Linked DNA regions of Homo sapiens: region 2 is linked to region 1. The links come from fine-mapping of genetic effects on plasma protein levels. Region 1 holds a variant in brackets. A gene starts in the other region. All regions are shown on their forward strands. Region 1 overlaps ARVCF (ARVCF delta catenin family member). Region 2 holds the start of CDH15 (cadherin 15).

Evidence for each region. A credible set is the group of variants that fine-mapping cannot tell apart. PIP is the posterior inclusion probability: the model's chance that the variant is causal. The UK Biobank Pharma Proteomics Project read protein levels with antibody pairs (Olink). The fine-mapping took linkage between variants from a reference panel, not from the people measured, so its PIPs are less certain.
Region 2: CDH15 starts here. The variant in region 1 is the best candidate, but not a certain one, in a credible set for the plasma level of the CDH15 protein (UK Biobank, PIP 0.72).

Annotation. Positions count from the first base shown.
Region 1 is chr22:19,970,184-19,975,541 of GRCh38, forward strand. It overlaps ARVCF (ARVCF delta catenin family member), which reads right to left. Exons shown (of 20, transcript NM_001670.3): 12 at 3,929-4,056; 13 at 3,460-3,610; 14 at 2,936-3,134; 15 at 2,742-2,853; 16 at 2,554-2,644; 17 at 2,175-2,228; 18 at 1,703-1,788; 19 at 1,033-1,152; 20 at 1-560. The coding sequence ends at 1,045. Among named protein-coding and RNA genes, the nearest start is that of MIR4761, 9.1 kb to the left of the region's middle. The variant G/C (reference allele first, on the strand shown) is at 2,900.
Region 2 is chr16:89,169,030-89,174,387 of GRCh38, forward strand. CDH15 (cadherin 15) reads left to right here and starts at 2,719. Exons shown (of 14, transcript NM_004933.3): 1 at 2,719-2,844. The coding sequence starts at 2,803. It overlaps LINC02138 (long intergenic non-protein coding RNA 2138), which reads left to right. Exons shown (of 3, transcript NR_046200.1): 3 at 1-118. RefSeq lists a silencer at 2,155-2,794.

The sequences.
Region 1 (5,358 bases):
GCACCTGTAGCCTGACCCCCACCTTGCTGCTTCCAAAGCTTCCTTGCCCAGGGCTGGGCCTTGTGGGGCACCCCCCACACCGTGGTCTGCCTGCCTGCAGGGTGCCCAGGGAGACCCTCCGCCTTTAGAAGTCCAAGTTCTTTCCCAGCCCCCTCCCTGCCTAGCTGCCTGCCCCTGGCGCCAGACCTGGCCCGCACCACTGGGGCACTGTGTTCCCAGGGGCACCCTCCTATCCCACCAGCCCCAAAGCCCAGCCAGGCACCCTTCCCTGCCACCTCCCTGGGCCCTGCCCCAGCAGCCCAGTCGGCCTCCTCGGGCCTTCTGTCACTCGCTCACACACAGCACCATGTCAGTAAACAGCTAACTCAGGCCTAGGGAGTTAGGTAGGATGGGGGGAGTGGGGTGGGGGGGCAGGAGGGTGTCCCCAAAGTCAGGCTTGGCTGGGGCGAGGCGCTGCCAACCCCTGCCGCCAGGGGGCTCCAAGCTCCACGGCACGATCTGCTCAGGGTGGCCCTTCTTCCACGATCCAAGCCCTAAGAACAAGAGGCTGGGCCTGGGCCCTGCAGAGGGAAAGGGGATGGTGGACGCTGCAGCCACTGAGTGGCACAGGACCACGTGTAACCTCAGGGCAGGGCAGCCAACTCCACAGGCTACATGGATGGAGATGTGGATAGAAGCATCTGCCCTGGGTGGTGTGGGCTGACCCCAAGGGTCTTGGCACCAGGGCTGATCCTGACTTGCTGGTCCCCGAAGGGCGTTGGAGGGTATGGTGCCCATCCCTACTCTGGTCCCATTTCCTCAGGCCCCTGATCCCACAGTGCCTGGGACAGGGCTGTGGGCCCAGGGAGCACCCTCCCTCTCTGACCTCTGCCTGGTCTTTCCGGGAATGGGCCACTGGGCTGCTGGACTGGAGGCCAAAGTCCTGCGGGGAACGTGCGGGAAGAGCAGAGCGTGCAGGCAGCGGAGACTAACAAGAAGCCCTGGCCCAGAGGGCAGGAACAGGTGGACGAACAACCAGATGAGAGAACGTACCAGGCATGCAAGCTAGACCCAGGAATCAACGGGCTGAGGCTTAGCGTCCCCTACGGCGTCCACCAGCCTGACCGCGGGCCTGCTGGGCCCGGGGGGAGGGGCCTTCCTGCTGGGGTCGAGCTGCAGCGCACGGGTGGGCATTAGAGGCACAATAGAGCAGGTTAGTTAGAGCTCCTGGGGGGACAGGGCAGGGGCAGGGCCGAGGCTGGCGATGTAAGGGTTGGCCTGCCAGGACAGCACAGGTAGCACCAAGGGCGCAGGGAGCCGGAAACGTGTGGCTCACACGGGCCCAGGGCGGGCACGTGCACACACACAGGCCTGCACAGGAAGCCAGGGGATTGGCACACAGCAGGCAGCAGGTCCTGCCATCGCTGGTGGACCCTGGTGGGCTCTCACACGCACATGCACAGAAGGGTGCACACACACTAGCTCACAGGCTCTGGCCCATGCAGGGTGTGGCCGGGCAGTGTTGTCCCCAGTGGGTGGGAGCTGCAAACTTGTCAGTACCCACAGACTGACTGGCGTGAAGGGGCTGCTTCCTGGGCTTGGCCCCACAACCCAGCTGTACCCCAGGGCCCAGACCAGACCCAGCATGGCCTAGGCTGCTCTCCAGCAACCCCTAGACACGGGGCCTCACCGGGGACCTGCCCACAGCCACATGACCACTTACTTTCAAGGGTTCCTTCTCAGAGGCCTCTCCTGCAGAGCTGGCGCCCCGTGGCCTCCGCTCCCTCCGGTCCACCGTGGAGTATCCGTCTGTAGATGGGGTAAGGTGGGGCATGAGGGGCGCTCTGAGGGAGGCCCTGTAGGAGCAGATCTCCCTCTCAGCCCAGACACAGGGGACTCGTGGGACAGGGGCTTTGGGAGACAGCCCCCACCCACCCTGTCCTGGAGATCCAGGCTGGTGCCAGCTCTCACCAACACCCTGCCAACTCTCCAGACTCCCCTCCACTTGTGGGTCAGAGCCCCTGGCTGAGCACTAATCCCTCTCTAGCTGCCCTGTACCTCACCCTCTAAGCACCCCTAAACCAAATATCTCTCCTCCACCCAGCACCATCTACACCCCATAAAACCAGCAGGCCCACTTCAGGCCTTGGTCCCCTCCCGGCACAGAAAACCAACCACACTGCATCTGCACTCACCTGGGCCCAGCGCATCCATGGGGATCACATCCCGGCTGCCAGTTTTCTCGCCCTCTGCAAGGCAGGAGGAGGAGACGGGCTGCATGTGGCAGCCAGGGGGGATCGGGGCAGAGAAGCCCACACAGGGCTGGCCCAGGTAGCCCTAGAGGCTCTCTGTCACTAAGGTGCCCAACCTCTGCCAGCTGGCAGCCTCACCCCAGCTTGACAACAGCGCGGATGCTGTGGGAAGGGAGTAGCCAAGAGGCAGAGGGCAGGGAAAGTGGCCTATGGAAGCCGTCTCAGTGGGAGGCCTGACTCCTCCTTCACCTTCACCCAAGGGTCAGGCAACTGGGGCAGCTGGGGTCGCCACCCTCTAGGCTCCCTAAGCTCCACCACTCACCAAGGCTCTTGTCCACCAGTGGCAGCGTGCTGTCATCGAAGCCCCCAGGACTCAGTGCTCCCTTAGGCCCCTTGGCAGTAGCAGCAGCTGACTGAGACATAAAACACAGACACAGGGTGGGTGAAGCACATGGAGTGGGAATAAGGCAAAGTGAGCAGGGAATGGAAGGAAGGCCAGGGAAGCCGCACCTGGAAGCGCGCCTTGGTCCAACCATCTTTCTGCAAGGTACCACGCAGCTCCTTGTAGCTCCACACTGTCTGCAGCACGTGTGACGCCGCCTTCGCTTCGCGTACCGATTGGCTGTGGGGCCGGGGGCGGGGTCAGTGGTGGCCCCTCCCCCACCTCC[G/C]CGGCTCCCCAAGCCACCGACCCCGCCCCTCCACACCTGGAGGCCACGAGAGCCACCAACGCTGGCACCCCGCGTGCCTGCAGGAGCGAGCGCGCGTTATCCAGGCTGTCGGACACGATTTCGTGGATGGTGTTGAGCACCGCCACCACGGTGTCTTCCTCCAGGCAGGCCCCCGGTCGCGGCGGAGCCTGTGCATTGCGCACATTCCGCACAAGCTCAGCCATGGCGTAGCTCCCTGAGGGGCAGGACTAGGTGTCAGAACACACCTCTGCCCCACCTCTCCAGGAAGGAGCAGGGATCCCGCGAGGGCGAGGGGCACTGCCAGGAGAGCCCCTGGAGACCGCCTGTGTGCAGGCGGTCACAGGAGCCCCTGTGAGCAGGGCGCTGAGCTTCAGAGACAGGGCCGGGGGGACTGGAGCTACCTCCAGTTGGGACAGCGCCCAAGCGAGAGGGCCGGGGCCTGGACTCCCAAACCACTCATCCTCCAAGCCCCTCCGATGGGACCCCAAAGCTGCAGGCACAGTTCGGTGCCCAGGCGTGGGCTTTGCAGGCGTCCTCACCGATGAGGTCTTTGTTGCGCCGGTCCAGCGAGAGGTTGCGCAGAGCGATGGCGACGGCGCGCACCACCTTGTCGGTCTCAGACTGCAGCAGTTCCACAAGCACCGGCAGCCCGCGCTCTTTGCGCACTGTGGCGCGGATGTACGTGGCCCACTGCGGAGGCGGGGAGAGGGTTGCTCAGACATACATGCCAGGCACTCTCCCACCTCCAGACGCTGACCGCTCTCTCCAGCTGGACCTTCCTGCTCCCGTGCCCGACAAAGCCCTACCCCAAAAGCTCAACGGCACCTCCACCGAGGTTTTCCCACCGTCCAGGGTGCACGCATTGCCCGCAGCCCATACACCTCTTGGATCCTGGGGTGGTGGTGTGGCCCCTCCTTTCCCCGCCAGCCGAGGCAGGAGCTGCACCAGTGAGGTGCCTGGGATTCCCTCTCTCAGGACTTGCCCACCCTGCCCGACCTGGTCCCTCACCATCCAGTTGCCGGCACTGAGGTTCTGCAGAGCGCCGGCGGCAGCCTCCAGGGTGTTGAAGTTCCGGCTCTCCGTGAGGAGGGAGAGGTAGAGACGTACCACCTCGGGCTGGTACAGCAGCTCAAAGCCTAGGTGCAGGGCAACCGCCACCCACGGTCACCCAGAATCTGCTCTCATCCATCATACCCCTCCCGCTTCCCGCTTCAGAGCTCCCAGGGCGTGGGTGAGCTGGGGCCAGGGATGGGTGTGGATGAGTCACGTAATATTTACTATCAACATATAGTCACCCAAGGGGAAAAGCGTTCCCATTTCACAGAGGAACAAACTGAGGCTCAAATCAGTTGGACCTGCCTGGCAGCAGGAGCATCCAGGAGGCCTGGGGTGGGGAGGGAGGTGTCAACCAGGAACGCTCTCCTAGCAACAAGACCCGCATTTCCCGGTAGGTCCCTGAAGCTATGCATCCTGGCCACGCCCCTGGTAATAGGGCCCACCCTCCCTGGCAACAAGACCAGCATTGGCCAGTAACTGAGAGTTGTATAACCAAGGCCACACCCCTAGCAAGAGGACCTGCTTTCACCAGTAACTGAAGCTGTGCAGAGAGCTACGCCCCCTAGCAACAGGGCCCACCCTCCCCCACTGACAATAGAGCCCACCCTCTGTAAGTCAACTGATGCAGTGCAACCAGGGCAGCTGCCCTAGCAACAGGAGGCACTCTTCCTGGCAACCACTCCAAGTTCCCGGGCAACTGAGGCGCCGTCCTGCTGCTCTGCCCAGTGCTCCAGAAATGAGGGGTCAAAACAGCCTTCCAAGCTTGCCTGTCTCCAAACTGGGGCTTCAGCCTGGCTTGGGTACTACCTCGATCTCCCCTGTACCCACCCAGTGACATTTCATCACACCCTCGCCAGTCCTCATGCCCCATGCTCCCTCTACTCCTGCCCTGCTGGGCTTTCTGCTCCAACACACTCCAAGCACACTCCCCGCTGGGGTATCTGCATCAGCCCTGCTCTGCCTGTAATACTCCCCCACAGCCCTCCTGCGGCTGGAGCCCTCCACCCTGGTGACATGCAGGCTCTTCCAACTGGCTAGGCCCCACCAGGACAGACCTCTCTCTCAAGCCAGATCCCAGCATACAGCCCAATAGGCACTGCCCTGTCCCTGCAGGTGTTCGTCTGGCCCAGCCTCTGAACCTGGATGTGAGCATGCCCGCCTGGCTCCCAGCCCCCTCAGATAACTCAGCTTTGTGGCTAACACAGGAGGCCCTGCCTCCACTGGAGGCGTCCCTCCAAACCTTCCCACCTCTTACGCACCGTGAGGCCGAGCAAGCCCTCGGCCTCTCTGTGCCTGTCTCCCCCAACCTTGCCTGACATGACCCATGGCACTTCCTCCCATTCTAAACCCTCAGCAGGTGTCCTGGTGCTGAATCACCCTCC
Region 2 (5,358 bases), not on the chromosome of region 1:
GGCCCCTGTCCAGCCCACCTTGCTCAACCGCAGCGTTCCGCATCACGCCTGCCCCTTAGTGGTTGGGGTGTGCATGTATATTTATACACTGTAATTACATAAATACAATTTAATAATCAAGGGTCAAGTGCCGTTACTGCACTGTGCAATTACAGAATCACTCCAGAGCAGACACCATGGCATCTCAGCTGAAAACCGGCACCCGCCTGCATCTATCGTGAGAAAGTTGGAAATTCCTTAGCCCAGCCTCGACCACTGCCTGCGGTGTTGGGAGGAGTGGCCAAGGGCTGGGGGTGGGGGGACCTCTGGGACATCCAAGACTGCAAGGCTCCTGGGGGGTCCGGGACCCTGTTTGTTGTCCCCCCGTTCCTCATACTGGGGAGAGGAAATAGGATGGGAACTGAGGCTGTGGACCAGGGAGCCCCCTCTACATCTTGGCCGGCCCACCCCCACCTCATGCCCATGAGGTGCGTCCCCCGAGGTGGAGAGTTGAGGTGGGCAAGGCAGAGGGCAGGAGTGATGGGGGTGAGTCCCAAAGGCTCAGGACTGCAGACTCTGGAAAAAGGAGGAGAAGGCCCAGAGTGGGGTCCTAGCTGGAGGCTTGGGGTGCTGAGGGAGGGTCCGGCGTCTCCAGGTCCACCAGGAAAGGGAAGGGCTCTTCTAGGGCTGATGGTCCTGCAGCCGAAAATGTACCCCTGCCCCCACTGCACAGGACCTCCAGACTCAGGGTACCCAGCCCTTCCCTGCCACCTACCTCTGACACAAGGAGAAACTGAGGCACGGGGGAGAACCTCCAGCCCAAGGCTCCGAGCTGGGACTGGACCCAGGCTCCTGCCTCCTGACCTTCCTGCTGCCCTGGGAGCATGTGGAGCGGGGTCCCTCGCGGGGGCACCTGCCCCTGGGGGATAGCCCGCCAGCCAGGGAGCACACCCTCCCGCAGTGGTTAAGCCGGCTGCTTCCCTGGCCCCGCCCTGCATTTGGGGCTCACCCAGGACCTGGCCCAGCTTAGCCTTTCCCTTAGAGACCCCCACATCCCATGGAGGAGGGATTTGGCCTCCGTTTCTCCCCGAGGTGGGTGGGAGGCAGGTGGCTGAAGCGAGGTGGGTGCAGGGTGGAAGCGGAGAGGAGCTGGGGTTGGCAGACCGCAGCCTCCCCAGACCTCTTTCTGGGGGGAGGGCGAGCACTTCTACCTCACCCCTGCACTAGTCCCGTGAGGATGAAAACCAAAAGCACTCAGAGGGCTTCTCCACCCCTATTTTGAGGTCACTGACCACAGAGGCAGGATGGTGGTCCCCAACAGGCTACACCCCAGCCCCAGAGGCCTCCCAGTCTGGAGATGGACTCCCTGCCCTCTCTCATCTTGGAGCAGTGAGCGCTAGGGACAGTCCTGGCCTGAGCCTCCCGGGCAGCCTGGCCTCCTTTCAAGCAGGCCAAGTGCACAGATGCTGCCTGCACCTGCACAGCCACCCGCCGTCGACAGGAGAGCAGAGGTACCGGGTCTGCTCCCATCACAGAGAGGAACGGGCTCCCCGGCCCGGCCCTGGGCTGGTCGGCAACCCCCACTCCCCACCCTGCCTGCTCAAAAGAAAGGATCCTCCTGCCTCCAGCCCCCTCCACCCCCTCTCCAGGACCTTCCTGACCGTGCGCTGGGCCTGTGCAGGTGTTGAGCCACACCCACACCATCCCAGGGGGCGGGGTCTCGAAGGGGAGAACAGGTGCCACAGTCAACAGGAGGGAGGGCTTCTGGCCGAGGTGGCAAGGAGGCTCCAGGAGGCGGCAGCGTTGACCTTGGGTGTTGAGGGATGATGAGAAGGAGTTCTGTAGGAAGGAAGGTGCTCCAGGCAGGGGGCCTCGGGGAACAAGGGGATGCTGGAGGAGGTGCGTGGACTGGGGGAATTGGGGGTGTCCTACGAGCCACGCTGGTATCAGAGGCGTGTGAACCAGAGCAGTTCCATACTGAATAAGAGCTGGGCAAAATGAGGTCGCGAGGAGGTGCGTGGAAGGCGGGCCTAGCGTTCAGTGGGATGCGGGGAGGCGCAGGAGACGCAGCCAGAGAGGCGAGGGGCCCAAGGAAGTGCTCAAGAGGTGTCCCCCGGCAGGGACTACAATGCAGATTCCCTGGAGCAGGGGCGAGCCGGGCCCAAGGAGCAGGAAATGAAGAAGCCAGGAATCCCAGCTGGTCCCTGACCCGGACGCACCCACCCTGCCTTCCCCACAGCCTGGCCTCTGGCTCTGCTCCCAACGCAGCAAGCCGGGGTATCTCCGACCTAGCCCTGGCCCTGCCCGCCGGAACCCCGCAAAAGCTATCACTCAGCCCTCGGCCCCGCCCCGGCCCCACCCCGGCCCCACCCCGCACTCTCACAAGGTGTCACTCAGCCCTCGGCCCCGCCCCGCCCGCCCCATCCTCCTCTGGCTCCGCCCCACCAGCCTCGTGCGGTCACCGCCCCGCCGGCGCACCTGCGCTGTCACTCAGCCCTCGGCCCCGGCCCCGCCCCGCCTGCCCCACTCGCACACGGGCTATCACTCAGCCTGCGCCCCGCCCTAGCTCGCCAGAGGCTCCGCCCCACCCGCCTGCCAACACGCTGTCACTCAGCCTTAGCCCTGCCCAGGCCGGCCCTCGGCCCGTCAGAGGCCTCCTTCGTGCTGTCACTCAGCCCTTGCCCCGCCCCCTCCCCGCCCCCCTCACACGTGCTGTCTCTGTCTCTGGCCCTGGCCCGCCCCGCGCACTTGCGCTGTCACTCAGCCTGGACGCGCTTCTTCGGGTCGCGGGTGCACTCCGGCCCGGCTCCCGCCTCGGCCCCGATGGACGCCGCGTTCCTCCTCGTCCTCGGGCTGTTGGCCCAGGTAAGGCATCGGCACCTGCGGGGGTCCCCGCTGCCTCCCTCGACGCTGCGGGACAGTGTCTTCAACTGCAGCCGCACAGGTCTCCCCCAGAACCACTGGCCCTGGTCGCCTTTGGGGGCCTGTGAGCGGAGTGGCTCCGGGTGGGTCCCTGGGCTGGGGGCAGCACCCCAGGGGTTGTGGGGAGTGAGTGTAACCAAACACTCCATCTGGTGGAATCACCCCCAGGACTGCAGAGTGCTGCTGGGGTCAGGGACCCCAGGCAGGGGCCACCCAGGTAGCCGTGCCCTCTCTTTGGAGGAACCGCTGCCGGGGTCTGGGGGTTGCCAGTCTTGAGTGGAGCAGAGAGAGGGGGGAGCGGCAGGAGTGCCCCTCTCTGGGGGGCTGGGGGCCAGGTTTCTATAGGGACTCCCTGCGGTGGGCACAGGACCCCTGGCTAGTCTTGGGTTTTGTCCAAACCCCCCACCCCAAGTTCCTGGCCAGCAGGGGTGGCTGCAGGCCCTGCCCCCAGGAACTCACCCTCACGGCTACTTCTCGATTGGGAGGGCCCAGCCCGAGCCAGGTCGCAACACACGGCCTTGCAGAGTGGCGTGTGGCAGCCCTGGGGGCTCTGTTCCTGGGCTTCACCTGGGACCCTGCCGCAGCTGCCTGGGGTGATCAGGCCTGGGGGCCCAGCCCCCAGAGGCTGCTGGACTCTGCCCCTAAAAATCTTGTCTGGACTGCTGGCACCGTGGTCTCTCCAACGTGGGAGCAAGCCAGAGTGGAAGGAAGCCCAGGCCTCAGCCCCCCACACCCGACATGGGTACTGCCTAGCTGGAGCCACGTCTCCTCACACCCTAGGGGGACCTAGACATGGAGGATGTGGCCTCAGTGGCTTCAGCCCCCAGGGACTGGGCTGGGCTGGGGCATGGCCGGCTGTGGTTGGGACGTCACTGGGTACAAGAGGGCAGCCTCTCTCTGGCCAATTCGAGAGAGAATGCACATAAAGGGCTTAGCGGTGCTCACAGTATTCATTGCTCTTGTGGTCCTGGGGTGGTCAGGGAGTGCTGGACACAGTGAGTAAGGGAAGCCACTCCTTTCCCAGCCCCCACTGAAGGGGCTTCCTGAGTCCCCTCATTCCCACAGGCCTCCCAGCTCCAGCTGGCTCCAATTTCAGCCCCTGGCAGCTGACCAGGCGCCTGGCCAGCCAGACCCTCCAGCAGCTGCCCCTGAGGGCACCACGGCTCCTGCCACCCCCGACTCCCCCATCTGGAGACAGTGGTGGGGGGAGACAGTGGCTCAGCATGCGTGCTCACCCCCCGGCCCTCCACCCCTCAGCCCTCTGCCGGGGAGCGCAGGCTGGGGGGCTCCATGCCTCCAGGGCCCTTCCCCACCTGCTCTGGGGACAGGGTTTCTTCCCTGGCACCCCAACCCAGGGCATGGTGGTGGGGAGGCTGGCGCCTGTGAAAACATTCCTCCAGACCTCTTCCTTTGGATTTGGGAGTGTCTGCCTTTCAAAAGGCCCCAGGGGGCTCTGTGGCAGGTGGGGAGGCAGGCAGGACCTCTCCCTCCTCAGAAGCCTTCCCTCTCACTGTCCCTTCTTTTCTCGCCCAGGGCTGGGGGACAATAACCCCCTCCCCCGACAGCTGGAGGCTGGGGGAGGTGGTGGAGGTGGGGGCCAGATGGCAAGGGGACTATCGCCAAGGCTCAAATTCACTCCACTGTGAGGCAAAATATGTCAGTGTCAGGACCCTGCCTGCCCCTCCCCCAGCAGCTCAGCTTTCAGGACTGTGAGCTCTCCTGGGCAGCCTTGGGGTCCTGGGCCGCCTCCTGGTGAGCCCCCAGGCAGGCAGCGTGGGCCCATCAGGGCCTTCTACAAGTGAGGGGTTGCTCCCCTGCTCGGGCCACCTCTGATTGCTGAGCTCACTCAGCCCCACCCGGAGGGTGTCTTCAGAACTGGCCCCTCTCAGCCCTGCTGCACCTACACCATCCCTAGTTGCTGGTTCTACACCTGGGACCCCACCCCAGCTGGGAGGCGGCTGAGGTCTGGGGCAGCACACTTGACTCACAGAGAACCCCAGCCTGCTGGGAAGGTCCCCACTTCTGCATCTGGGTTTTGGGAGCCCCTTGGTCTCTGGGAGACAGTCAGCAGCACCCTGGGGGCCAGGCAGGGGCTCTTAGCTCGGGTGACTGTGACCAAGGCCAAGAAGGGAAGTGGCTCCCAGGCCACTGTTCTTCCCACAGTGGAAGGACAGCCCCAGACACCGTGCTTTGGAGGGGACAGCTGCCTCCATGCCTCTTCTTCCACATCCCTTCTCTGAAGCCCGCAGCAGCTAGAGAGGGTGGGGCCCAGGGAAGATGCTCCAGCCGCTCTGGGCCAGGCCAACAGCTGGGGCCATTCCTGGCATGCCTGGCCATCCAGGAACGGGGTGGCCCCAGATTCCAGCCTGGGGGAGGGGTTGAAGCCTGAGAAGCTTGAGGGGCCTTCGCACTCTCTTCCCAGGCAAACCCACCCACACGCCACCAAGCGTGTTCCTA